Linked DNA regions of Homo sapiens: all the other regions are linked to region 1. The links come from fine-mapping of genetic effects on gene expression. A gene starts in region 1. Each other region holds a variant in brackets. All regions are shown on one strand. Distances are from middle to middle. Region 1 holds the start of ABTB2 (ankyrin repeat and BTB domain containing 2). Region 2 has its middle 13 kb from the start of CAT. Region 3 overlaps ABTB2 (ankyrin repeat and BTB domain containing 2).

The links. PIP is the estimated chance that this variant, and not a neighbour inherited with it, causes the effect.
Region 2: its variant is the best candidate, but not a certain one, in a credible set for the expression of ABTB2 in CD4 T cells (BLUEPRINT, PIP 0.55).
Region 3: its variant is the best candidate, but not a certain one, in a credible set for the expression of ABTB2 in whole blood (TOPMed, PIP 0.67).

What each region holds. Positions count from the first base shown.
Region 1 is chr11:34,353,982-34,362,541 of GRCh38, forward strand. ABTB2 (ankyrin repeat and BTB domain containing 2) reads right to left here and starts at 4,029. Exons shown (of 17, transcript NM_145804.3): 1 at 2,720-4,029. The coding sequence starts at 3,602. RefSeq lists an enhancer at 2,955-3,064 and a silencer at 4,015-4,214.
Region 2 is chr11:34,421,790-34,430,349 of GRCh38, forward strand. No RefSeq gene overlaps it. Among named protein-coding and RNA genes, the nearest start is that of CAT, 13 kb to the right of the region's middle. The variant T/G (reference allele first, on the strand shown) is at 4,067.
Region 3 is chr11:34,312,762-34,320,761 of GRCh38, forward strand. The region is part of intron 1 of ABTB2 (ankyrin repeat and BTB domain containing 2); the gene reads right to left. Among named protein-coding and RNA genes, the nearest start is that of ABTB2, 41 kb to the right of the region's middle. The variant A/G (reference allele first, on the strand shown) is at 3,256.

The DNA.
Region 1 (8,560 bases):
TCCCTCTGAAGCCAGCTTTCAGACATAAGTAATTCATTGCCCCTCTACTAAACATTCATTTCACTTTGTCTAAAGGGACTTAATAAATCAGCCTGGTTATTGTTTAATGTGGCCACCCCCTGGTTTTCATGTATAAAAAATGAGCATCCAGTTGCTAAGTGGAAGTGAATGGTCACCTCGCCTGCAAGAGAGTTCCCTGGAGACCCGAGAAGGTACAGAGGGAGACACTTTGACTCTGAGCATCCGGGGAGCTTTGTTGTCTGCCACAGAGAATCCTGCTCTCTTGACTACCCAGGATTAAGGAGGATTGTTTGGAAAGGGGGGGCAAGGAGGAGGTTAAAACATGGGGTCGTGGCTGAGTGTGGTGGCTCACGCCTGTCGCCTGTAATCCCAACATTTTGAGAGGCCGAGGCAGGAGGACTGCTGGAGCCCAGGAGTTTGAAACCAGCCTGGGCAACATAGCAAAACCCTGTCTCTATTTAAAAAAACAAAAGGTGGTGGTGGAGCTGGGGGGTGGGGGTGGGGGGGTAGGTGGTGCCAAAAGACCAACTTATAAAGGAAATCCCAAGGAATGCTGACCCTAGATAAGAAATAGTTCTTTGGTTGGAAGCCCTTTAGCAGAAGACATCTGTTTTCTAGCAGCTTCTGGCCACTTCGCATCTTCAGGGTGTCCTGGGCAGGGAGTTGGTCTTCCTTATTTCAATTTGCAGTTAGAAAAGCTGGGAGAAGCTTCTCAATGTGCTGGGCACCTGTTCTGCATGAATATATGTTTTTGTTTTGTTTTGCATTTACAGTTCCACCCTTATTCTTGTTTGGCTTATAGGGTTAGGTCTTCAGTCTTTTCTCCTAGGAGCCTGCCTTTACTTCTTTGAGTTCAGTTTGGGCCTCCTCTCAGCCAAAAGTACAGAACTCTTTCCCTCAATTATGACCACTGGAGATGGAAATCCCCTGGCCCTCCACTTCCTGCCCTGGAGCTGCTGTTCCCAGTGTTGATGCCACAAACCTGGAGGGTGAGGCACAACAAGCAGCTGTGACATCATCAACTGAGATTCAGGACTGACCTTAGCTCTGACCTAAGAGGAAGAAAATTAAGCAGCAGATGCTCTTCAATTCCCAGCATCTCCTTTGGCAGTGCCAGAATTTAAAAACAAAACCAATAATGTCAAAGTAAGCCATGCTTGGTACAGAGTGTCTTCAAAATGGGCCTAACATGTCAACTGTTCTCGAAAACTGGGCTAATCAAAAAACAAAGCATAAGATCTGAGAGCTATAGTCCAGTAAGAAAAACAAACAAACAAACAACAACAACAAACCAGAAAAACAAAGCTGTTTCTTCTCCACCAGCATCTAGAACCTTAAAGGGGCCTACCTGGATTCAAACTGGATTCAAATTCCAGTTTTGCCATTTAACATCTATGTAATGTTGGGCAGATTATTTAACTGCTGGGTACCTTGGTTTCCTTATCTGTAAAATGGGCATCATACTATGCAGTAAGTACCTACCTAATAGGCTTGCTAGGAGTACTTGAGTTAAATACAAAGTGCTGAGAATAATGACGACACATTAAGGGTTATTTTGCATTTCAGCTATTATGATTATGTTAAACCATGTTTTGACTTCTTTTATCCCTTTCCAGTCCCCACCTGACCTCTTCCACTGCCTGCTTATTTGCCACTGAAAGCTGCCCCCCAAATGGCCTTCCAATCAGATCGTAAGGCTGTTTAACCATAATACCATTCTGAACAGTTTATGGTGCTGACTTCTCAAACTGAAGTCTTGTAGGTAGTTTGCAGTTGAATGCAATGTCACACCCCCTAACATTGTCAGGGAAAAGGTCATGTGCTTTGTTTCCATCCTTTGCACCAAATCCATGCTATCTTCAGGGAAGTGCAACCACCCAATGGTTCCTTTCCCAGACTTGACCCCATGCGGTTACCTATCTCTTCCCCTTGATGGGCCACCACTCTTTTCAGGAAAGAACATTTAATACAATGCAAGGTTTTAACCAATGGCTCACTTGGTTGGTGACAGCTTGGAAAAATCAGGTCTCAGGAGACAATCTGTGGTTACTTTTCTGGGAAGGGGAGTCGGGGTCCCCAGGTTTCATCATTCCTGGGCACATATAGGTAAGAGCGAACCACTACCCCTCCATCCCCCAAGAGAGCGCCTGACAGCATCCTTCAGCCCAGCAAAGCACAAGGCGCAGCACCAGATCTTGGGCTTCCCACTTCCCTCCGCCCATCTTACTTATCCAAGGTTCAGGTCTTTAAGTTGGGACCCTTTGGTTGCTGCTATTGAGCTGGGGAAAACTAGGGGGCAGAATCAGTCAATCTAACCAGCTGTTGGGGAAAGACAGCAGCTAGAGACCTAGTCAATCACGGTAAAGAGCCACGGGGCAGTAAGTTTCATTTCAAGAGAGGTTCAGGAATGGCTTGGTCAAGAGATTCAATCTCACCCAATCAATGAACAGCCCGCAGATAGTAACAATGCCACGCAGAACAGGATGGAGATCATTCACAAGTTTACCCTCCAAAAGTCAGACACCCTTAGAACAATCTCTGGCAAGTGCCATGTAATGAACCCTATCCTCAGACCAAACGTTTTCTCCCAAAGAACTGGCACAGCCACCAGCTTTGTCTCAGGAAATTCACTCCCCCAGTAGCCCAGGGCGGGATTTCTTGCCTACCCAGTCTGCCAGTCCGAGGCCCGCGCGCTTACCATTGGCGTTCTTGCCGCAGATGAGATGCTCATAGGGCTGCAAGACGCCCCAGAGCTCGGCGTCGTTGTTGATGACCATCTCCAGGGCCTCAGCAGACACCTCCCCGCCTCCGGCCCCTCCGCCATCAGGGCTGTGGCTGGCCATCACCCTGGCCCGGATCTCCTCCACCAGGTTCTCCATGCAGGCGGTGAGGGAGATGGCTGCGTACTCGTGGATGCGCACGGAGATTCGGGTGTCCACCATCCAGCGGAAAAAGCGACCCACTGAGAAGGTGAGGCCGCAGCGCGCGGACTTGCCCCGGCGCAGCCCGTCGCCGGCGCTCATGCTGTACAGGGACAGCGCCTTGACGGCTGCCAGCGCGCAGCTCTCGGCCAGCGCCCAGCTGTGCACCAGGCGCACGGCGCTCTGCACCTCAAAGCGGGTGCACTTGGCGTGCAGCACGCTCAGGCGCTGCGCCTCGCGGGCCACGCGGATCAGTGCCCTGCGGAGCAGCCCGGCCAGGCGCCTCACCGCCTCGGCGGAGAACTGGGGCAGCCGCCGGCCGCCAGCGCCTTTGCGGAGCACCCGGGCCACGTCTCCTTCGGTCCAGGGGAACTCCTCCAGCTCGGGGAGCCGCGGACAGCGCGAGAAGAGGTCGGCCACTTCGGGGTCCTCGGGCAGCACCGTGTTCACCGTGTCCCAGCTGTTGTGGCGGCTGTTCATGGAGCCGGAGTAGCACCACCAGGCCGCCCCGCGGTGCTGCTGCGCCGAAGAGTTGAGCGCCTGCGAGTTGGACTTGGAGGACGAGAGGCTGAGCGAGCGGCACGAGTCCCCGGCCCCATACCCGGAGTCCAAGGTCAAGTCCTCCAGCGTCTTCAGAGTCGAGCTGTACGTCCCGGCCATGGGGAGCCTGCCGAGGGCGGCGTCGCCGAGCGAGGGGCACTCACAACTCCATGCCCTCTTTCCCAAGTGGGCAGAAACAAGCTCTAGGCCCTCCGGGCCACCCTCCTTCCTCTCTGCGTCGCGGGGCTCGGCGGCCGCATTGCCTGCCCGGAGGCCGCGGGAAGGTGGCCGAGATCCGTGGCCAGCAGGAGCCCCACGCTCCCGGCGTCCCGACTCGCAGCTGCCACTGGAAAGAACCCCGTCGCTACCCCCCGGCACTCCCCCTTGTCCACCTCTAATTCCCACAAGCAGAGAGTCAGTCCTCCACAGAGAAGGAATCCCGGGAGAACAGGGCGGCGGCGGCAGAAGGAGGAGGCGGCGGCGCAGGGCGCAGGGCGCAGCGCGAGTCCGGGACCAGCCGGCGAGAAAGCGCTCTGCAAACTTCTGCGCTGCGCCGGCCGGCAGCACAGCTGGGTACCCGGCTGCGTCCGACATGCAAATAACCCCGGGCGGCTTACCAATCACCGGCCGCGATGGGCGGGGCTGCACCAATGATCTCCGAGGGGGCGGTCACTATGCAGATTTCACTCTGCCTCGGGTTAAACCCCGCGGCGAAGGAGGCGGGGCTGGAGGCCGAGGGTCGGGCACGCGGCTGGGATGGGGGTGGGGATGGGGGGGGATGGGGGGGATGGGGGGGTGGGGGAAGGGCGAGCCAGCCAACTGGGAGGTGGAGGTGGAGACCGGAAAGCAGCGGTCGAAACGATAGCTCCGGAGCTCACGATTTAAAGAAAAATGCAAAGGAAAAGCTACAGGGCGCTGCCACCTTCCCGCCACCCAGGCTTTGGGCGTTCGCTGCTCGCTTTCGAGCCCTCCGCAGCCAGGCGTCCTGGGGTTGGGGCCAGGAGAATGGGGAGGGCCCCATCCAGGCGCTCCACCTCTCCTCCACCTTCCGCCAGGCCCCTCCCGCAATCCGAGATGAAACGCTGGCTGTGTTTGGAGGGAGGAGGGAGTCCCTGCCTCTCTTTCCAAGTCCGTCTGGTTCCTTTGCGCTGCCGTCTAGGCTCCAATAAGGACAGAATTTCTTAACCTGGTATCTGATCAATGGACGGGCCCCAGGAAGCCTGTGAGTGCCTCCGCCCATTTGTGGTTTCACCTGCAGTTTTCTGAGTGCCACTATGGGGAAGGGGCACCAACTTTTGTCAGATTCTCAAGAGGATCCGTGACTTCCCTGTTACCTCTGTGTGACGATACCACTTGCTGTCAGGTGGGTCCTTTTTGTCCGAGATAGACAGTGTTCTTACAGGAAGAATGAGAAGAAGGTGGCAGAGCAGTCCCTCGCCCTGGGCTGAGCTCGGAACACCTAGCTGGATGCAGGTGTTCGCCTCCTAACGCGTGCCGGTGGGCGAGCCGTATGCCCCCGCGGGACCCAGTTCCTCCGGGGTACAATGAGTGGCTGACCTCCAGGCAGCGCCAGTGCCAACCTGCCTCCGGGCGGGTGTCCCAAACGGTCCGCCAGAGCGCTGTTGGTTCAGCAGTCCCATGCCCGGTGCAGGCATGTCCCGCCGCTGCCCTGTGGCTACTCACACGCACGTGCGCAAACGGACCTGTGCCCCCTCCAGTGGAACCGCAGGCTCAAGGCGGGGATTGTGCATTCGCTCTCCCCAAGTCAGCCTCCCCCACTCCTGAATGGCTCCTTTGTGTTGCATTTTACACAGTTCTGACCTTGGGCCGTGAGTTGGATATGAACTAGAAATGTCTGGTTTGTCTCTTTCCTTCTTAAATTAATGGCCTTTACCCCCGGTGAAACTGCTTTTTATTTGGCAGTTTCGCTTAATTTTGCCTTTCCGCGGGTCTTTATTTATGCAACATCGCCGCCCGATGGTTAGAATTGGGAACAGAGTCAAAGATGGAAGTACTGTAATACCAAAGACGCAAGTCAGCAGAGATCAAACTAACAAAGGAGAATGCAGTCACACTTTACAGACGTGAGATTAGAAATTAAAGTAGGCAATGAGGTCCAACTTGTCAAAAATACAAAAGTAAATTTTATGCAATTTAAAACTTTATTGGGGAAATATAATATTAAAGGCAATGTCGCCCTCTAATGGATATATTCAAAGGAAATGAATTTCAGAAAGGTTTCCCTGTCCCCCCTTTTCTTCGTTGTGCGCACCCATCAAACCTAAAGAGAATTACTTAACTGGAAATTTACAACGGGGAACTTACTGAATGAAAGGTTATTGGAGGAATCATCTGGAGTGGGAAAAAGAGCCTATGGGATTTATATTAATATATTCAAATTACTTGATGACTTAAAGTGTAGATAATCAAACATGCCTCCAACTGAATCTGAGAATCCTGTGAATGTTGACCTGCAACATGAAGATATATTATGCAAAATTCAGCCATGGGAAATGCTTCTGAACAAACAACTGAGTTTCTTTAATAAATAAGTTTCAAGGAAAGAAAGAGATGGAGAGAAGACCTACACATTTAAAGAGACTTGAAAGACATAATAACCAATTACAAGGTGTGGAACTTATGTGTATTTTGAATTTGTTTTAAAAAGCCAGTAAACATTTGACATTATGAAACCATTAGGAACACTGCCTCGATGTTTGCTCTTAAAGAATAACTGTTTTTTTTTTTTTGATGTGGTAATGGTAGTGTGGTTATATTTATCAAATGTTCTTATCTTTTAGAGACACATGCTGAAATAAGTGTTTTGTAGCCCTCAAGAGTTGGCTTCCTCAAGGAAAAAAGGAAGACAAATCCTCATGGAAAAATCTGGTAAAGGGACTAGGAAGTTAGGAAAGACTGTAGATAGATCTCTTGTCTTTCAAATTTTCCTCAGTCTTCTAGTCAGCCTGAGGACTGGCAGTACCAAGTAAACCCAGAATGTGTCTGTGTTTGTGTTTTGTGTGATATGGGAAAAAGAATAGGAGGAAGATAGATAGAGATGAATATATATATATATATATATATATATATATATATATATATATATCCAGCCATCTTAGAATGAACCAATTCTTTGATTTCAGTTCAACTTTTGGGAGTTGGCCAGTGTGGTGAAATACAAAACTTTGGGTCAAGGAAAGAAAGGACATGGTTTCTTATATATACGTGCATGTGTTCAGTTAAGCCAATCTGCTGGTAATGTGTTTGATTTTAAGAATGCAAATTATATTAAGAGAAAATGTCATCCCAACTCGGGCCTTACCCAAACATTATTTTTGAAGAAACATTGTTTTTGAAGAAAAACAGCTGTCATTAAGCTGGACAAGGAGAAAAGAACATAACAGAACACTGGCAAACATTGGAACAATTCCAAGTGGAGTTGACAATTAAGAAGCAGATCTCGGATTACCCACGCAAAAATCATGTAACAGAGGTAGCTTGAAGTAAACTTTAGAAACTTTACCTGGTGTGAGGTCTTCTATGTGCTTACACAATCAAAAACAATCTGGAAATTAGGAGATAAAATACCCTGGAATTTACCTTGAAAGTGAGGGTGTTATAATCCCAACTATTTACAGACAGAACTGTCTCATGAGAAAGGTAGATTATGGCCTTGACTTTGGAGAGTGGCCAAATTTTAATTTAGTTTGTGGATCACCTTCAGTGCATTTGGCAGATGTAGATCTTTAACTCCCACAGGTGGTTTTAATCAACTCTCCTAGTCAGGAGGGAATGTCTTTAAGCAGAGAATTAACATGTTCAGGCTTACAGAAATAGATTTGAAATTAATTGGAGAAAACTAAGTTTATAGAGCAGAGAGCATTACCTGCTTGTTTGTTGGTTGTCTTTCTGTCCTACAAGAATATAAGCTCCATGAGGGAAGGGATCTTCTCCATTGAGTTCACTTTTGTATCCCATTGCCTAGGTCAGTATGAGCGTAAAGTAGGAGCTCAATAAATATTGAATAAGTGAATGAATGAAACTAACAGGATGAATGGGGCAATGTAATGAACAGCTAGGTTTCTTTTTAAACTCTCAAGGAACCAGCAGGTGCTTAAGACTGTGTGTTAAGGGAAAAGGATTACTGACATCTGAACTGAGATTTTCCTGATACCTGCCTCCTCCATAGACTTTAGGAGAGTCATGTGCTCCCCATCCATATTATTATTATTTTTGAGACAGAGTCCCACTCTGTCATTCAGGCTGAAGTGCAGTGGTGCTATCTCGGCTCACTGAAACCTCCACCTCCCAGGTTCAAGAGATTCTCCTGCCTCAGCCTACCAAGTAGTGGGGACTACAGGCATGTGCCACCACTTCTGGCTAATTTTTGTGTTTTTAGTAGAGACGGGTTCACCATACTGGCCAGGCTGGTCTCAAACTTCTGACCTTAAGTGATCTGCCCGCCTCAGCCTCCCAAAGTGTGGGAATTACAGGCATGAGCCACTATGCCCAGCCCCCACCCACATCAGAAAGGGGTTCCTAACACCTTGGGGAGGTGGGCTTAGGAAGTGGGGAGTGTCTTTGAATCACCTAAAATTGCCTACAACATTTTTAATATGAGTACATATTTGCATATTCTGGAGAGAGGGTCAATGCCTCTAGGCAGGACTGTCTGATAGAACTTTCTGAGATAAAGAAAAAGGTTCCATATCTGTGCTATCAAATACAGAAGCCACTAACCACTTGTGGCTGCAACTTGAAATCTAGCTATTGTGACTGAAGAACTGAGTCTTAAATTTTAATTAATTAATTATTTTTGAGATGGGGTCTCACTGTCACTCAGGCTGTAGTGCAGTGGTATGATCTTGGCTTACTGCAACCTCTGCCTCCTTAACTCAAGTGGTCCTCCCACCTCAGCCTCCTGAGTAGCTGGGACCACAGGTGCACGCCACCACGCCCAGCTAATTCCTTGTATTTTTGATAGTGACAGGATTTTGCCATGTTGCCCAGGCTGGTCTCGAACTCCTGAGCTCAAGTGATCCTCCTGCCTCAGCCTTTAATTTAATTTTAAACTTGAA
Region 2 (8,560 bases), 68 kb after region 1:
AGTATAAAATATTTCACAACTAAAAGCCCTGACCAAAAAAGACATTTAAGTATTAGTCTGCACTCCTGCATTTGTTTCCTATACCTTTGTTTCTCTTTCTTCATGCATCTGCTTGGTGTTTTTTTTTTTTTTTCGAGATGAAGTCTCACTCTGTCACTCAGGCTGGAGTGCAGTGACGTGATCTCGGCTCACTGCAACCTCTGCCTCCCAAGTTCAAGTGATTCTCCTGCCTCAGCCTTCCGAGTAGCTGGGATTACAGGCACGTGCCACCATGCCCCGCTAATTTTTGTATTTTTAGTAGAGATGGGTTTTCACCATGTTGGCCATGTGGGTCTCGAACTCTTGACTTCAGGTAATCTGCCCACCTTGGCCTCCCAATGTGCTGGGATTACAGGCATTAGCCACGGTGCCGGGCCGTGCTTCTGCTGTTATCTACAGTGATCTCCAAGTTCTGAAGAACCCTTCTCATGTTTGCCTCCTTTTTCTTATCTCAAGGGCTGCTCTTCTGCTTTCTTTTGTGATTTCCCCTGTGCTTCCTTCCTGATTGCTAGTTTCTTTATTCAGCTCATGTGAATTTGCTTTTCACCTCTTTGGATTGCACTGCCAGTGTTTGGAAGTTCAGTTACTTTCCCCTCTTTGTTTTTGTTTTCTGGAATAGTCTACTTACAAGAATCACGGCTATTAGACCAGAGTGCCTCTGGGTTTTCTATTTCCTCTTTTTGGTGATGTTTGATAAAGATGCCATTTCAGATATCTTATTTTATGGGCTACTCTGTAAACAACTGTGGGAATTGGAGTTTTGGCAGGCTTTTAAGAGATGTCAACACTGCAATGAAGTGGAGGCAGCCGTTAAGAAAAATGCTTTCTTAAAAGCTTCTCTTTGGAGAATTTCTGCTGCTATCTACCGCAGCTAAGAAGGCCTAGAATAAACATCCATGGAATACTGTGGAATACATGGGATATCATGTAGCCATTAAAAACGATCATGGAGATTTTTATTTGTCAACATGGAAAGATGTTTATGACATATTAAGTGAGAAGCACAAGTTATATAGTATGTATATATGTAATATTTGTAAATAATATATATGATCTCATTTTATTTAAAGCCTTCTATATTTAAGTGCATAAACATTCATAGATAAAACTAGAAGAGTATTCATCAAATTGTGAAAAAATATTAACAATGGTTATCTTGGGATGGTAAAATTTGGGGGTGATTTTGGGAGGTTAAATTTATATGATTTTCTCTATTTTCTAAAGCACTTGAAGGGAATATATATGGCTTTATAAAAAACAGCATATTAGTATCATTTCAATTTTTTTAAAAAGAGGCTTTTGGTGAGATTAACAAATTTCTCTTTTAAATATTTCATTCTTTCTTTTGAAAAAAACTATCTGAAAGTATTATTTCTCCACCCTTTTAGCATAACACTTGAGCAGATTTTACAGTTAAAAATCATGAGTATTCTATGGATTGTATTGGTGCACACGTATAGACAATTGCAGTAAGTTTTAAGTCCAGTTTGCCTTCCTCAGGTTGTGTGGTGAAGGTCCTCCTCAGAGATAACGGAGCGGGAAAGATGGGCAGATTCAGCCTGGAGCCAACATCGCTGGGGTGACAGTGGGGTGGACACAGCTGTCACCGAGAAATGGCCTGAGGGAAGGCAGTGCAGCCTCCTAGGGTTGCGTGATTCCATTCAAGGAAATGGAGATGTGTGAATTTCCCCTGAGGGCTTGGCAGGGCACTCAAGGTGGAAGTAAAAGCTGCCCTAGCACTGTTTCATAGGACAGAAGTATGCTCCACTGTTCCCACCTCGACTTCAAAGACACAGTCAGTGGCGGTGGCAGTTGTGGCAACTATGGTGGTAAGGTGACCAACTATCCTGATTTGCCAGGGACTTTTCCCATTTTAACACTGAAAGTCCCACATCCCAGGAAACCCCTCTGTCCCAGGTAAACCAGGATGGTTGGTCTCCCTGTACTGTGGGCACATCAACATGATTGGGAGAGGTACCTCACTGGGGCGGTGAAAGCTTGTGGAGGTGATGGCAACTAAACGAGAGGAGGCAACAGTTGCCATGGTGACGATGGTGTGGTATTAGGAGAGATGCCAGGATGTGGTGGTGCCCCTGGCAGTAGAAACCTGGACTCCAAGTGAAGAGTCGAACCAACAGCTCTTGCAAGAATGGCTTTTCAGGCCAGACATGCCTGTAATCCTAGCACTTTGGGAGGCCAAGGTGGGTGGATCACCTGAAGTCAGGAGTTTGAGACCAGCCTGGCTAACATGGTGAAGCCCTGTCTCCACTAAAAATACAAAAATTAGCTGGGCATGGGGGTGGGTGCCTGTAATCCCAGCTACATGGGACGCTGAGGCATGAGAATCACTTGAATCCGGAGGTGGAGGTTGCAGTGAGCCAAGATGGTGTCACTGAACTTCAGCTTGGGTGACAGAGTAAGACACCATCTCAAAAAAAAAAAAAAAAAAAAAAAAGAATGGATTTTCAGTTTTCCCACTGCTGTTGTAACCAGGAAATCCAAAGCATTGGGATGGAGGTAGGGGCCAGTAGTGGTGGCTGGGACTCCAGGAATTACATCCAAAGAGGCCACATGTCTCTTAATGATCCCTGTGTACTCACATCCCTTCCATTGTCCTTGCCTCACACCTGGGATGGGGAAGCATTAGCTGGCACTTTCCAAACCCTACCCTTCTTTATACAGCTTTTAGGGGCTACAGTCACCTTTAGCTTTTTACACACATCATCCTTTATCTTTCTTGTTCACGTTCCTCTTTTTTAAAAAAGATATTTGATTAAGATCTTTAAGACCTGAAACCATAAAAATTCTAGAAGAAAACCTTGAAAAAACTCCTCTGGACATTGGTTAACATAAAAAATTTATGACTGACCCCAAAAGCAAATGCAACAAAAACGAAAAAGCTTCTGTACAGCAATAATAATAATAATAATCAGAGTAAACATACAATCCACAGAATGGGAGAGAATAGTTGCAAACCATGCATCCAACAAAGGATTTATATCCAGAATCGACAAGGAATTCAAACAAATCAGCAAGAAAAAAGCAAATAATCCCATCAAAAAGTGGGCAAAGAACATGAATAGACATTTCTCAAAAGAAGATATACAAATGGTCAACAAACATATTTTTAAAAAGTGCAACATTACTAATCATCGGGGAATGCAAATTAAAACCACAATGAGATATCACCTACCCCAGCCAAAATGGCTATTATTAAAAAGTCAAAAAACAACAGATGTTGGTAAGGATGTGGTGAAAAAGGAATTCTTATATGCTACTGGTGGGAATGTAAATTAATACAACCTCTACAGAAAAGAGTATGGAAGTTTCTTGAAAAACTAAAAGTAGATCTACTATTCAATCTGGCAATCCCACAACTGGCTATTTACTCAAAGGAAAAAAAAAGTCATTAAATCAAAAAGATACATGCATGTATATGTTTACTGCAGCACAATTCACAATTGCAAAGATACGGAATCAACCTAAATGCTCGTCAACTGATGAATGGATAAAGAAAATATGGTCTACATACACCATGGAATGCTACTCAGTCATAAAAAAGAACAAAAGAAGGTCTTCTGCAGGAAATTGGATGAAACTGGAGGCCATTATTCTAAGTGAAGTAACTCAAGAGTGGAAAACCAAATACCACATGTTTTCTCACTTGTAAGTGGGAGCTAAGCTATGTGTATGCAAGGACATACAGAGTGGTATAACGAACATTTGAGACTCAGAAGGGGGAGGGTGGAAGTGAAATGAGGGATGGCAAACTGCTTATTGGGTACAAAGAACACTACTTGGGTGATGGGTGCACTGAAAATTCAGACTTCACCACTATACAATTTATCCATGAAACCAAAAACCACTTGTACCCCTAAAGCTATTGAAAATATATATAAAATATTGAAAAAAAAATATATATAAAGGTCCTCAGTGCTTAAAAAAAATCAAGTGTTTTTTTAAAACTTGCCAGACAATGGAATATATTTTATAGAAAAAAGTCGATTGAGTAGTTTCACTGAGGGGG[T/G]ACAAATCAGCGGTTGTTAACGGCCACAAATTAAGGATTGAAAACTAGCACTGTGGATAGAGAGGAAAGAGTCCACAGGCCTGTATGTTGGTTAAAACAAGTCCTGTGGTTCATTGGTCAATAAACAGTTTTCAGTTAGATTCTTTGAGGGTCTGGCATACCTGAATCACTCAAAATTTATGGTCCTAATCAGCCACAGCAAGTTAGAGCCAGTTATGATGAAACACAATGTTCAGTTTTACTGTTTCCTGAGTAAGTATTGCTCTAAAAATACTTCCTTTTATGCTTTACAATCAGAGCTGAATTTGCCAGTTGAGCATGAAGGTTTCTTGTAGCCAGGCCTCCTTCCCTCCACCTCTGGATAAATGTGCTTCTACTGAAGCTGCTATTTTTTGTTTATTTGTTGTTTTTGAGACAGGGTCTCACTCTGTCACCCAGGCTGGAGTGTAGTGGCACAATCACAGCTCACGGCAGCCTCAACCTCCTAGGCTCAAGCAATCCTCCCACCTTAGCCTCTGGAGTAACTGGGACTACAGGCGTGTGCAATGATGCTCAGCTAATTTTTAATTTTTTTTTTTAGAGACAGGGTCTCACTATGTTGCCCAGGCTGGTCTCAAACTCCTGGGCTCAAGCGATCCTCTAGCTTCTGCCTCCCAAAGTGTTGGGATTACAGGAGTGAGCCACTGTGCCTGGCCTGAAGCTATTTTAATCCATGCCTTATCCACTATTCTTTGGATTTTGCAAATTCCCTCCTTTTATTCTGGACAAACAGTACTTTCCTCCGAATTTCAGAACTGAGATCTAGTCTTGATCAATATGAGTTTTCTCTAATATCTTTGTTTCTTCTTTTTTTAAATTGACGAAGGTAGACTCTCTAATCTCAATGTTTATCTCTTTAGTTTCCTTCTAGGCCTTCCTTCACAGCCAGGTCCCCACAGTGAAATCTGTCCTTAGCCCGACTGTGCCATCTGGGGCTCTCTCAGGGAGACACTGGTTTTGCACTCCAGGTCATTGTTTCTTTTAGGTGCATAATAGCATAACATGATAGCACATCTGCATTTAATTATGATTCCGTCTTCCTGGCTCCACGTTCACAAATTTCTAAGCCTTTGGAGAGAAGGAATATTTGCTACAAACATTGGCTGCAGTGATGATGTTGTCATCTGCTTTTGATTTCCTAGATGTAGCCATAAACAGATGCAAAGTTTGGCTAAATGGTTGGGAGTGGAGTGTTTGGACCATCTGACAGGGTGTAGATAGGACTCTCCACATGTCTGCAGTCATAATTTTGTCCATTTTTTTTAAGTTTTTTGTCTTTAAAAATATGCCTCATCACTTCTTTTTCTTCCTACACTGAACTGGCACAGAATAAATAGAACCTTGACTTTGGTTTCACAATGTATGTGGTGGATTTCATAGACTTTTGTGTTTCATAACACAAAAATGTTTGACCTTTGCAAATGATTTCTTTTCATCTTTAGGTCACAGAGCTTTCGTGTTGATATATTTGAGAGGGGCAGAGAGTAATAACACAGGGTAATATGATGTAAGGAGGACAAATGCCTTTTTCTGTTACAAACCACACACCTCCTCTGCCTCCAGCCAGTGCAATGCTTTTGACCATAAACTTCGTTGAATCTGTCCATGTAGCCTAGAGTCAGCCACTGCTGAATCATTCTCCCAACTACAATGCTCCCTGGAGCGTTCATTACAGCACTCAAGAGTTTTGATGACTGGCACTTTTGGCATCTTTTTTTTTTTTTTTTTTTTTTTTTTTTTTTTGTCGTGGGCTTCAGCTGCCCCAGCTCCTTTCCAACACCCTACTTTCCCTTGCTCAAGGGTTACTTTAGGGTTGATGATTACTGAGGACACTCAACAGAAGCTCAGATGTTTGAGGAATGCAAGTTGTTATAAGATAAGGTGCTTTCTTGCACTTAGTTAACTTCAGACATCAAGACTTGTGTTGCTAGGGTTCTTGCTAACAGAACAATACACAGAATAATCTGTAAACTTAATAGCGCAAGAGATGGCATGTTCCAAACATCACCAAAGGCAGCCATAAAATCAGGGCCTATTTTGAAAATTGTGACTGATATTTATTAAACTAATGTCAACCAATTATACTGTCATAAAAAAGTCAGAAACGATGTTCATTGTCAAGTAATTCCTTATCTCAGGATAATAAAAGGCAAGCTTAGGGTACATTTTGTCAGATGACTTCAGGGTTTTATAAGTATTAACACATTAAATCTCATAATGTATAAGGGTTAAGAAAATAGTTTGGTCATTTCTCTGTGTAGCCTGTCTGGTTAACTGTTTATATATTCCTACTTTTTAACTTACTTATTTATTTATTGAGACAGGGTCTTGCTGTCTTGCCCAGGTTGGAGTGCAGTGAGCTATCATCAGTGGACTGATCAACCTCTACCTCCTGGGCTCAACTGATCCTCCCACCTCAACCTCCTGAGTAGCTGGCACTATAGGTGTGAACCACCATGCCCAGCTAATTTTTAATTTTTTTTGTAAAGATAAGGTCTCACTATGTTGCCCAGGCTGGTCTCGAACTCCTGGACTCAAGAGATCCTCCTGCTCCAACCTTCCAGAGGTCTGGACTTACAGGTGTGAGTTGCCACCCCAAGCTGTATTTCTTTCTTTCTTTTTAAGACAGGAGTCTTGCTCTGTTACCCAAGCTGGAGTGCAGTGGCATGATCTTGGCTCACTGCAACCTCCGCCTCCCAGGTTCAAGAGATTCTCCTGCCTCAGCCTCCTGAGTAGCTGGGATTACAGGCATGCAACACCATGCCTGGCTAATATTTTGTATTTTCAGTAGAGGCAGGATTTTGCCATGTTGCCCAGGCTGGTCTCGAACTCCTGAGCTCAGGCAATCCACCTGCCTCGGCCTCCCAAAGTGCTAGGATTACAGGTGTGAGCCACCTTGCCTGGCCCTAACCCGTATTTCTATCTTTTAATCTATGTAACTTCTCTGTGTCTCAATTTGTTTCTGTAAAAGTCACTGGGTCCAAGGCAAAACGGTGATGTAGGTGAAGTTTGAATTTAATGTCTTCCACTTCTTCCTCATCTTCATGTGGGGGTCCTCAGGTTGGGGTGAAGAAGTAACAAAAGTGAGAGTGTCCAGTTCTTGCTCTCAGCTACTGAATAACTTGTAATGAAGGTATTACCTGAGATGCTCATGTATGACTCACCCTAGGAATATACGTATACTTATTTGTAAATTTTTACTTTGATATAATACTAAGTTGCAGAAAGTTACAAAAATAGTATAAGTAACTCCAGTTTACCCTTTACCCAGATTTTGCTCTATTTATTTTGTCAAGTGCTTGCTCTCTTTACTTACATGTGTATATGGATATATATGATGTATATTTTTTTCTGGCCCATTTGAGAGTAAGTTGCAGACATCATGCCTCTTTACCACTAAATACTTCAATGTGTATTTTCTAAGACACAAAAGAAATCTCTGATGTAAGAGATTACATAACTGCAGTCTAATGATCAAAACAAGGAAATTTAACATTGATACAATATTCTTATTCATATTAAGTTTATGGCCCATATTAAATTTCATAAATTGTCTCCATAATGTTTCTGAAGTCTTTTCCGTCTGTTCCAAGACCCAGTCCAGGAACACTCTTCATACTTAGTTGGCATGTCTCCTTAGTCTTTTTTAAACTGGAACAGTTCTTTAGTCCTTAACTTCCATGATCTTGATATTTTGAAAAGGCCAGTTGTAGACTGTTCCTCAGTTGGAGTTTGTCTCATGTTTCCTCATGATTAGATTCAGAGTATGCATTTTTGATAGGAATGCCACAGAAGCGATGTTGAGTCCTTCCTGGTGTACCATGTCAGAAGGTTCATAATGGGGGTAATATATCTATTTTTTTTTTTTTGAGACAGAGTTTCACTCTTGTTGCCCAGGCTGGAGTGCAATGGCATGATCTTGGCTCACTGAAACCTCCACCTCCCTGGTTCAAGAGATTCTCCTGCCTCAGCCTCCCGAGTAGCAGGGATTACAGGTGCATGTCACCATGCCTGGCTAATTTCGTACTTTTAGTAGAGATGAGGTTTCTCCATGTTGATCAGGCTGGTCTCGAACTCCTGACCTCAGGTGATCTGCCCACCTCAGCCTCCCAAAGTGCTGGGATTACAGGCATGAGCCACTGCACCCGGCAATATATCTATTTTTTAAAAGAGGACTCTTTTTGAGAATATGGGAAAGTACTCAAGTCCTAAAGGAAAATATATTTAAAAATGAAATGGGAGGGTATCTGTATTTGAGCCAGGCATCTGATCAAATTCTCCCTCAAATCCCTCAAGGCAAATTGTCACTTACTCTGGTTATTTGTAACATGGTTTATCCCGGTATTACCTCATCTATTAATTCACTTGCTTGTTCATTCATTTAGTCAAATATCCTGGGTGCCAGAAAACTGTTGCAGGTGCTAAGAATAAGCAGAAAATTCAAAACCAGAAACA
Region 3 (8,000 bases), 42 kb before region 1:
GCAATCATGGCTCACTGCAGCCTTGACCTCCTGGGCTCAGGCAAGCCTCTCACCTCAGCCTTCCGAAGTGCTGGGATTACAGGCGTGTGCCACTATGCTGGGCTACTATTCTCATTTTATAGGAGAAATCGCCTCAGAAGGGGTAACTTGTGTTAGGTTACAAAGCTAGCAAGTGGCAGAGCTGGGGCCTGAAACACAGGCCTAAATGATTCTAAAATCCATGTTCTTAGAAGAAAAAAAGAAAAAAGAAAGAATAGAAAAGACCCAATTTCTTAGCAAGTGAAACTACCTGCACTAAAATTAAATCTATATTCATGATTTAGAAATGGTCCAGGAACTGAAAGAGTTAACAATAGCTCACTGTCAGTGGAACAATTTATACAGGAGCCCATGTGCATTTTCTTGCTCAAGGGTTTCTGGAACCTTCCCTGGAATTAGGTCAGCAGCTGGAGAGCAGCTAGCAGTGGAAAGAGGAGTAACAGAATGACCAGACACCCCAACCGCTTCTGGTGCTGGCTCTGAAAGGCTGGCTCCCGGACAGACGGAGTGTCCCATTGGGCCGGCTCCCGAGCACCTCAGCTGTCTCCTGGGTAGGATGTGGTCTGACCACATTCTTTGAAGTGTATGGTAGCTCCTTACAAGCCACCTGGCTGAGAAGGCAAGCCAGCAACCCCAGCAGCAACCTGCACCACCATCAGGCCCCCCAGAGAGTGCCACCTCCTGCCCCTTGGGGCCCAGGCTCCCCGGAGAAGCAGAAGCTCTTTTGGCCTCATACACAGCCCAGTCATTGTAACCCAGACCATTGGACAAGGAGGATGTGCGGAGAATATCTCAAACGCCCTGAGAGATGGAGTTGTTACAATACACATTTCATGTAGACGGTGATATCAGCCATGCCACGAAAGTGGGAGAGATGCCACTGGGAGGGCGCACCTGCCTCAGTTTCTTCATCTGTAAAATAGAGGTTATGATAGGACTTTGCAACTCTACGGAGAAACAAGTGGATCTGTGTAAAGCACTCAGTGCCTGATGATGAACACACACTCACTATGTCCAACTATTATTACTAGTATTTCTTACCACCCTTATAATCATAGATTCTCTGTGTAAAAGCCCTCCCCACCGTCCTCAGCAAGGGACTTGCCCCAGCACTGCTGACGTTAAGGCCGAGTTCTCCTTCAAGGTGGGGCAGGTTGGAGGGCACAACCTGGCTCCCACACGGTCCTAGGGTGTGGGTGCTGCCTGTTATGTGGTGAATGGATAAACATGCTCTGGAAACCGAGGGGGCTGGAGGTCCCCAAATTTACAACAGCAAAGGAGAGGGGCTAATGCTGGTCACAGAGTGATGAGGGAAACTACTACCTGAGATACTCCCATGCAGGTGGCTTTAATTCCCTGATATCCAGCACCCCAAAACCCTCGAGGGTCATGTGGAAGGCTGGATAGATGGCCATGTCGCATGCCCAAGAGATCTTCCAGAGCAGCTGGTCTCACCAGACTTGAGGCTGTTCTTCTCGGATATGCTGAAACAGAGAAGAGGCTTCTGCAACCTGTTCACTAAGTGGGTCAGAGATTAGACTCTAACCTCGATGAGGGCGGGACCAGGTCTGTTTTTCTTACTAGGGTATCTGTACTCCAAGGCTGAGCCAGCGCTTGGCACATAGTCCATGTTCAATAGTATTTGTTGCATGAAGAAAGGAATGACTAGAAAAGTCAAATAGATGTGTGTGTTTTAAGGACCTACCATGTGACACACCTGTGCTAGGTGCCACAGGGGCATGATCTTTTCTTCTCTGCACACAGCTGCAAGGGAGAGGTGCTGATGGCTCTCTTTTGAGAGGAGGACACTGAGGCTAGGAGGTCAGTGTCCCCTCAGACCAAGGGCTCATGACTGGTGAGTGGCAGAGCTCAACCTCCCCCTGGTATCCGATGCTGGTGCCTGGATCCTCTTAGAAGGACTGGCTAGATAATTTTCAGGGTCCAGATCAAAATGAAAATGGGAGGCTCCTTGTTCAAAAATTAAGAATTTCAAGGCAGTGATAGCTGATCATTAAGCCAAGTGTGGAGCCCTTCTGAGTGGGGGGCCCTGTGTGACAGCACAGGCTGAGAGTCCATGAGGCTAACCCTGTTCTGAGAGGCTGAGGGTGATGCCGCACTTACAAGGTACAGTCAGCCCCTGTGATGGCCCTAATGGTTTCCATGTTGCCAAGCTCCAACCCAACACTCCAAATGACTTCCCCAGAAAGGCCGCTGCAGATTATCTTACCCTCTTTTCAAAAAACAAAGACTGGAAAAGTCCTCGCCAGAAGGGCTCAAAATTCCATATTAAAAAGAGGCCTGCACTCGCGCGAGCCTGCCTTCTGGACAGTGCATTTGCATGAGGCCACGTGAGCGCAGACACTGTCTGTGGAAACAAGCACGCCTGGCATTTGGAAACTAACTGGGACCAGACCCTTGGTCGAGGAGCCCCAAATTACCACAGAGCAAGTCTCCTGATTAAAACCAGGGCACTGAGGTTCCTGGGTTTCACTGAATAAACACGCCCAGTTCAGGCTGACTGGTTTCAGCTGATGGGGAGAAATGAGTCTATTTGAAATAACCTGTGTCCGGGGCCATCCTGACATGGGGCTCTGAGGGTCTGGGGCTTGGCTTTCCGAGGTTTAGAAGCCCATCTTTGGGAGGTTTTTGAGACAAAGGAAAGCTGTATTGGGCAGCTAAAAAGCTCTGGGGAATACAGGCCCCAATCATTCATGAGGAGGAATGGAAACAATTAGATTGATTCCAGGGATGTGTTCTGGGTTCCCATTCTCCTCTCCTGGCATCCAGTGCCTGTCTCCTCCATCCCTCCTCCCCTGCCCCAATCATAGCTCACCCTCGGCGCTGAGCAGACATGGGCAGGGAGAGAAGGGCACATTCTGGCTGGCCGTAGCCCGGAGGCTTTACTGTGGTAAGTATAGTTCTGAAATGCGCAGGTCTCCTTAAATTCAATTTCCCTTTTCCTATCAGAAATGACACGAGCAGCCACCCCCCAGGTTTCCAGCTGCCTTTCATGGCAGGCTCTCAGTGCTTCTGACACACAGAATTCCCAACACCTGTGCCAGCCAGGTGCCAGGCATCTACCCCTCACAGTGGAGAAACCTGAGGTGGCTTAGCATAACTTCTTCAAGGCGAGCTTATGCGGCAATTTCTAACCAGTCATCGTCAAACTGCTGATTAAATGTTTGCAGTTAAAATGTTAAGAACAAAAGAAAAAAT[A/G]TGTTGCTTTGTTTTATCCAACACTTGACAAGAACTAACTTTGGGATCAAGTGGCCAGGGTTGCTAGAACAAGGCTAAAAATGCCGATGTTCCTCTGCTTCACTCACACTGCAGCAAGGAAACTAACATTCCAGACACCCCGTCCCTGGGCAAGGAGGAGGGGAGACAGCCCTCACTGACAGCACCCAACGTGAGGCTGTGTTTTGTGGTCAGTCCCAGATTCTGGCCATCACAGTGGCACGGATCATACGGACACTGCAAAAGTCGCAAATGGCTCCCTTTCATCCTTTCTTTCAACCATCAGCAAACTGGGGCTCTCTGGATAGACAAGAACTCCTCACAGTAGGTTAGCACTCGCCTTTCAGCAATGATTTCATTTTAAACTCAACTTCAGATCCAGCCCAGCTCTGACTATAATCACAGTGGATGGGCTGAGCCTTCTGCTCCTCTGGGAGGTAAAAGATACTCACTGGATCATTTCCTGCACTCTGCTCTTTTGCTACCCCAAAACCCACAGGCTTGTCAGTGACCGAGTGGCAAACGTGTTTGTCGCAAATATTTCATCATCAACTACAAGGCTGAGCAGTGAAAATACCAAGGCCAAGTTGCTGTTGCCACTGGTGCTGCTGAAGCCCAGCTTTAAGATAATCCATGAGCCCCAGAATATGTTTTTAAAAAAAAATACAGTGTGTACTTGAATGTGATAAAAACCGCACCAATAACAACTGCACACACAGAGTTTCCAAGAATAAATAAAGCTTGGCTGAGCCTGTCCTAATTGACTACATTAAGGGTATACAAAGGACCTGTGTGTGACCAAGACAGTGGTAGCACAGAAGATATGTGGGAAGCTTGTGATACAGTTCTTACCCTGGACACACTAATGACCTCACTGGGGAAGCCCGGGAGGCACATGGGAAAGAACAGAAAGATCTGGACGAAACACTCCAGCCCCATCAGTGTCTGCTTCAAAACTACTGTGCCTGAGGTACTCAGGGCGGTAGAGGCACAAAGCCTGTTTGATTCTGCTCTGCTCATAGGCAACTGACTACAAAACCAACAGAACTAGAACAATTCCAACCAGAGACACATGCAAGAACCCTTGGTACTTCATGCCATAGGTTTTTGGATGTTTAACAAAGACATGACCTCTCTTGTGTAAGTTAAACATGTCACCTGTGCCATCTGTTTATATTCTAGATATGCCTGATGAGCCTGGCTTAGGCAATCTTGCCCTCTGATTCCACTGCCCTCTGTTCAGATCTCCATCACAATCATTAGTACAGTGTTTACAGGCTTTCTACCCTGGAGACTATAATCTTCCTGGGCAAGGGAGTTGGGGGTTTGTCTCCTCTCCCGCATCTTGTATTTTTCCCTTGATTGCGCTCTGCCCACAGACTGCTCAATAAGGGGGCACTGGCAATGAGAGTGCGAAAACAGTAAGAGAAACACTTGGTCAACGAAATTAAGAATGGGCCAGGCATGGTGTCTTACACCTATAATCCCAGCAGTCTGGGAGGCTGAAGCAGGAGGATCGCTTCAGTATAGGAGTTCAAGACCAGCCTAGGTAACATGACAAGACTCCATCTCCACAAAAAAATACAAAAATTAGTCAGGTGCCTGTAGTCCCAGCTACTTGAGAGGATGAGGTGGGAGGATCACTTGAGCCTGGGAGGCGGAGGTTGCAGTGCACCAAGATGTTGTCACCACATTCCAGCCCAGGCAACAGAGCAAAATCCTGTCTCAAAAAAAAAAAAAAAAAATTAATAACGGCTTTTTAAAAAAATTTCAGATTTGGGGATACATGTGCATGTTTGTTGCATGGGTATTACACACATAATGGTGGGGATTGGGCTTCTAGCATACCTATCATTCAAATATTGAACACTTTACCTAATATGTAATTTTTCAACCCTCACCCCCACTCCTCCCCTCCCCACGTCCCCCTCCCCTACCTCTTTTTTGAGACATAGCCTCGCTCTGTCACCCAGGCTGGATGAAGTACAGTGGCACAATCTTGGCTCACTGCAACCTCCAGCTCCTGGGTTCAAGTAATTCTCCTGCCTCAGCCTCCCAAGTAGCTGGGACTACACGCATGTGCCACCATGCCCAGCTAATTTTTTTGCATTTTTAGTAGAGACAAGCTTTCGCCACATTGGCCAGGCCAGTCTCAAACTCCTGACCTCAGGTGATCCATCTGCCTCAGACTCCCAAAGTGCTGGGATTTATAGGCATGAGTCACTGTGCCTGGCTCCACGTTTTTTGGTTCCTAGTGTCTATTTTTTCCATCTTTATGTCCATGCATACCCATTGTTTAGCTCCCATTTATGAGAACATGTGATATTTGATTTTCTGCTTCTGAGTTCAGTTAGGATAATGGCCTCCAGCTCCACCCATGTTACTGCAAAAGACATGATTCCAAGGAATGACTTATTTTAAAGGCAACCCAGAGACCATCTAGAAAAGTCATTCTCAACACTTTCCCAAGGAGGAAGCTTGGGGTCTGAGGGACCAAGGGACTGGTCTAAGGACACTCAGTTGGCTCGTGGCAGGGCCAGGATGGACCTGAGTCTCAGCTACTAAATACACAATGACGTCATAATAAAAATTCCAACTTAGATTTCTAGGCAGTTGAAAGAAGGTGGTTTTACTAGACTGTGAATCAGCCAGTAAGTACAGAGTCCAAGAGTCCAGAGGATTATTTTCCATTTAATGCCAGCTGGGGAGTCAGAACTCAATGTTCTGAGTTGGGAGGTGACCCATAATGTGATAAGGATCCAGCATGTTGCTCTCAGGTCATCCTTGGGCAGCTTAACCACTAGTCTAAGTAATCTATAAACCCCCCTGTTTGGAGAAACAAGATGTTTTGATGGAGAAATACCAAGAAGTGTCATCTCAGGGCTAAGGAAGGAAGCTTGCATGCCTTTCAAAGGAACTGCCCAGTTATTAGCCTGAGTCAGCTGTAATGTCAAAGGCACCTCTTTCCAGACTGAAATCCTGGAGCCAGAGACTGGCACTGTCTTAGCAAGGATGATGGCCAAGGCCCCTGGAGCTGGGGGATAACATCTTGTCAGCCCCACAGAGTAATAGGAACAGCGCTGGAGTAGACACCACCTCAGACTCTACAACAGATGACCCAGGGAAAGGCAATGAAATGAAATAAAATGCTTCCTGGATCTGACACACAAGAAGCCTTGGCTCAGGCCTTCTTCCCCACAACCCCACCGACTTCAGATGGTCATTATACAGCCAGGTGAAGAAGGTCACAGAGACCTCCCCCTTTGTGATAAAGTCAGAAGAGACCCCAAAGCTTACTGGGATCTCTTTTGGCTTTATCATAAAGGGGCAGGTCCCACCAGGACCAGCTGATGCCTGCACTGGCCAGTATCTAGGCAGCAGGGGAGGAGAAACCTAGGTGTGGGATAGCTCCAAGCCAAGGACAGGTTTGGGACAAAAAGGGAACAGCCAACATACACCAAGTATATGCAGTGCTGTCTGTCACCTCTGAAGTCATTACCAAGGCGGGCTGTGGAGTCAGCCAGACCTGAGCGTGAGCTTCCCACTGTCACTCTTCACACTGTGTGGTAAGTTATTTAACCCCTCCCAGCCTCTGTTTTATCAGCTGGAAAATGAGACACCAGGACTATTTTATTTTATATTTATTTTATTTTATATGAAGTCTCACTTTGGCACCCAGGCTAGAGTTCAGTGGCGTGATCTCTGCTCACTGCAACCTCTGCCTCCCAGGTTCAAGTGATTCTCCTGCCTCAGCCTCCCAAGTAGGTTGGACTACAGGCATGCACCACCACGCCCAGCTAATTTTTGTATTTTTAATAGAGATGGGTTTCACCATGTTGGCCAGGCTGGTCTCGAACTCCTGACCTTAGGTGATCCACCCACCTCGGCCTCCCAAAGGGCTAGGATTACAGGTGTGAGACACTGTGCCTGGCCTCGAACTCCTGACCTCAGGTGATCCACCCACCTTGGCCTTCCAAAGTCCTGGGATTACAGGCGTGACCACCGTGCCTGGCCACTTTTTAGAGAGCAGGTGTATTAAAATGAGCTAGTGAGTATAAAGCATTTAGTTCAGTACTTGAAACATACTAATCTATTAGCACACGTTACTTAATTTTATTTTTATTCTTAACACACAGCTCACTCCCTGAGATCTCTAACAGAGCTGCATATGATTTATGTCTCCCCAAAATATGTGCACAGATGACCCAAATAGAAATTTAATTCTGGCTTTGGAAGGCACTCAGGTTTTGAGAAAAGAGCAGATTTTATTTCTTAAGGATGTTACCCTTGGGCTAACATTTGAATGCTTTGTATTTCCTGGGGGAATTGAAGTCAGAAGGCAGGGTCCTAAAAATGTACTCAGTGGCCGAAGCAGTCTGGTTGATGATTAAAACCTTATCCCTGGATGATCTGAGCTGAAAAGGCCATTTCAGCTGTAGACCATTTCAATGCCTCCACAGGTGTACAGAGATTTATGATAAAAGTCACTTGGATGGATATACCTCACCACAGTAGAATTTCTTCTCCAAAGCAAAGTAGAACTTGAAAGCTCAAGGTGCCATTGGGTGGGCTGGCTGCCTCTTGAATTCTCTCACCTAACCTTCACGAAGGACTTACCCCACAGGCAGGCATATGGGTGTCGTGTGTCCACATTAGACGTCCGTGGAACTCTCTAGAACATACCAGACTAACTTTATCTCCCCTGGGCAATCCCAGCTCACTACTGA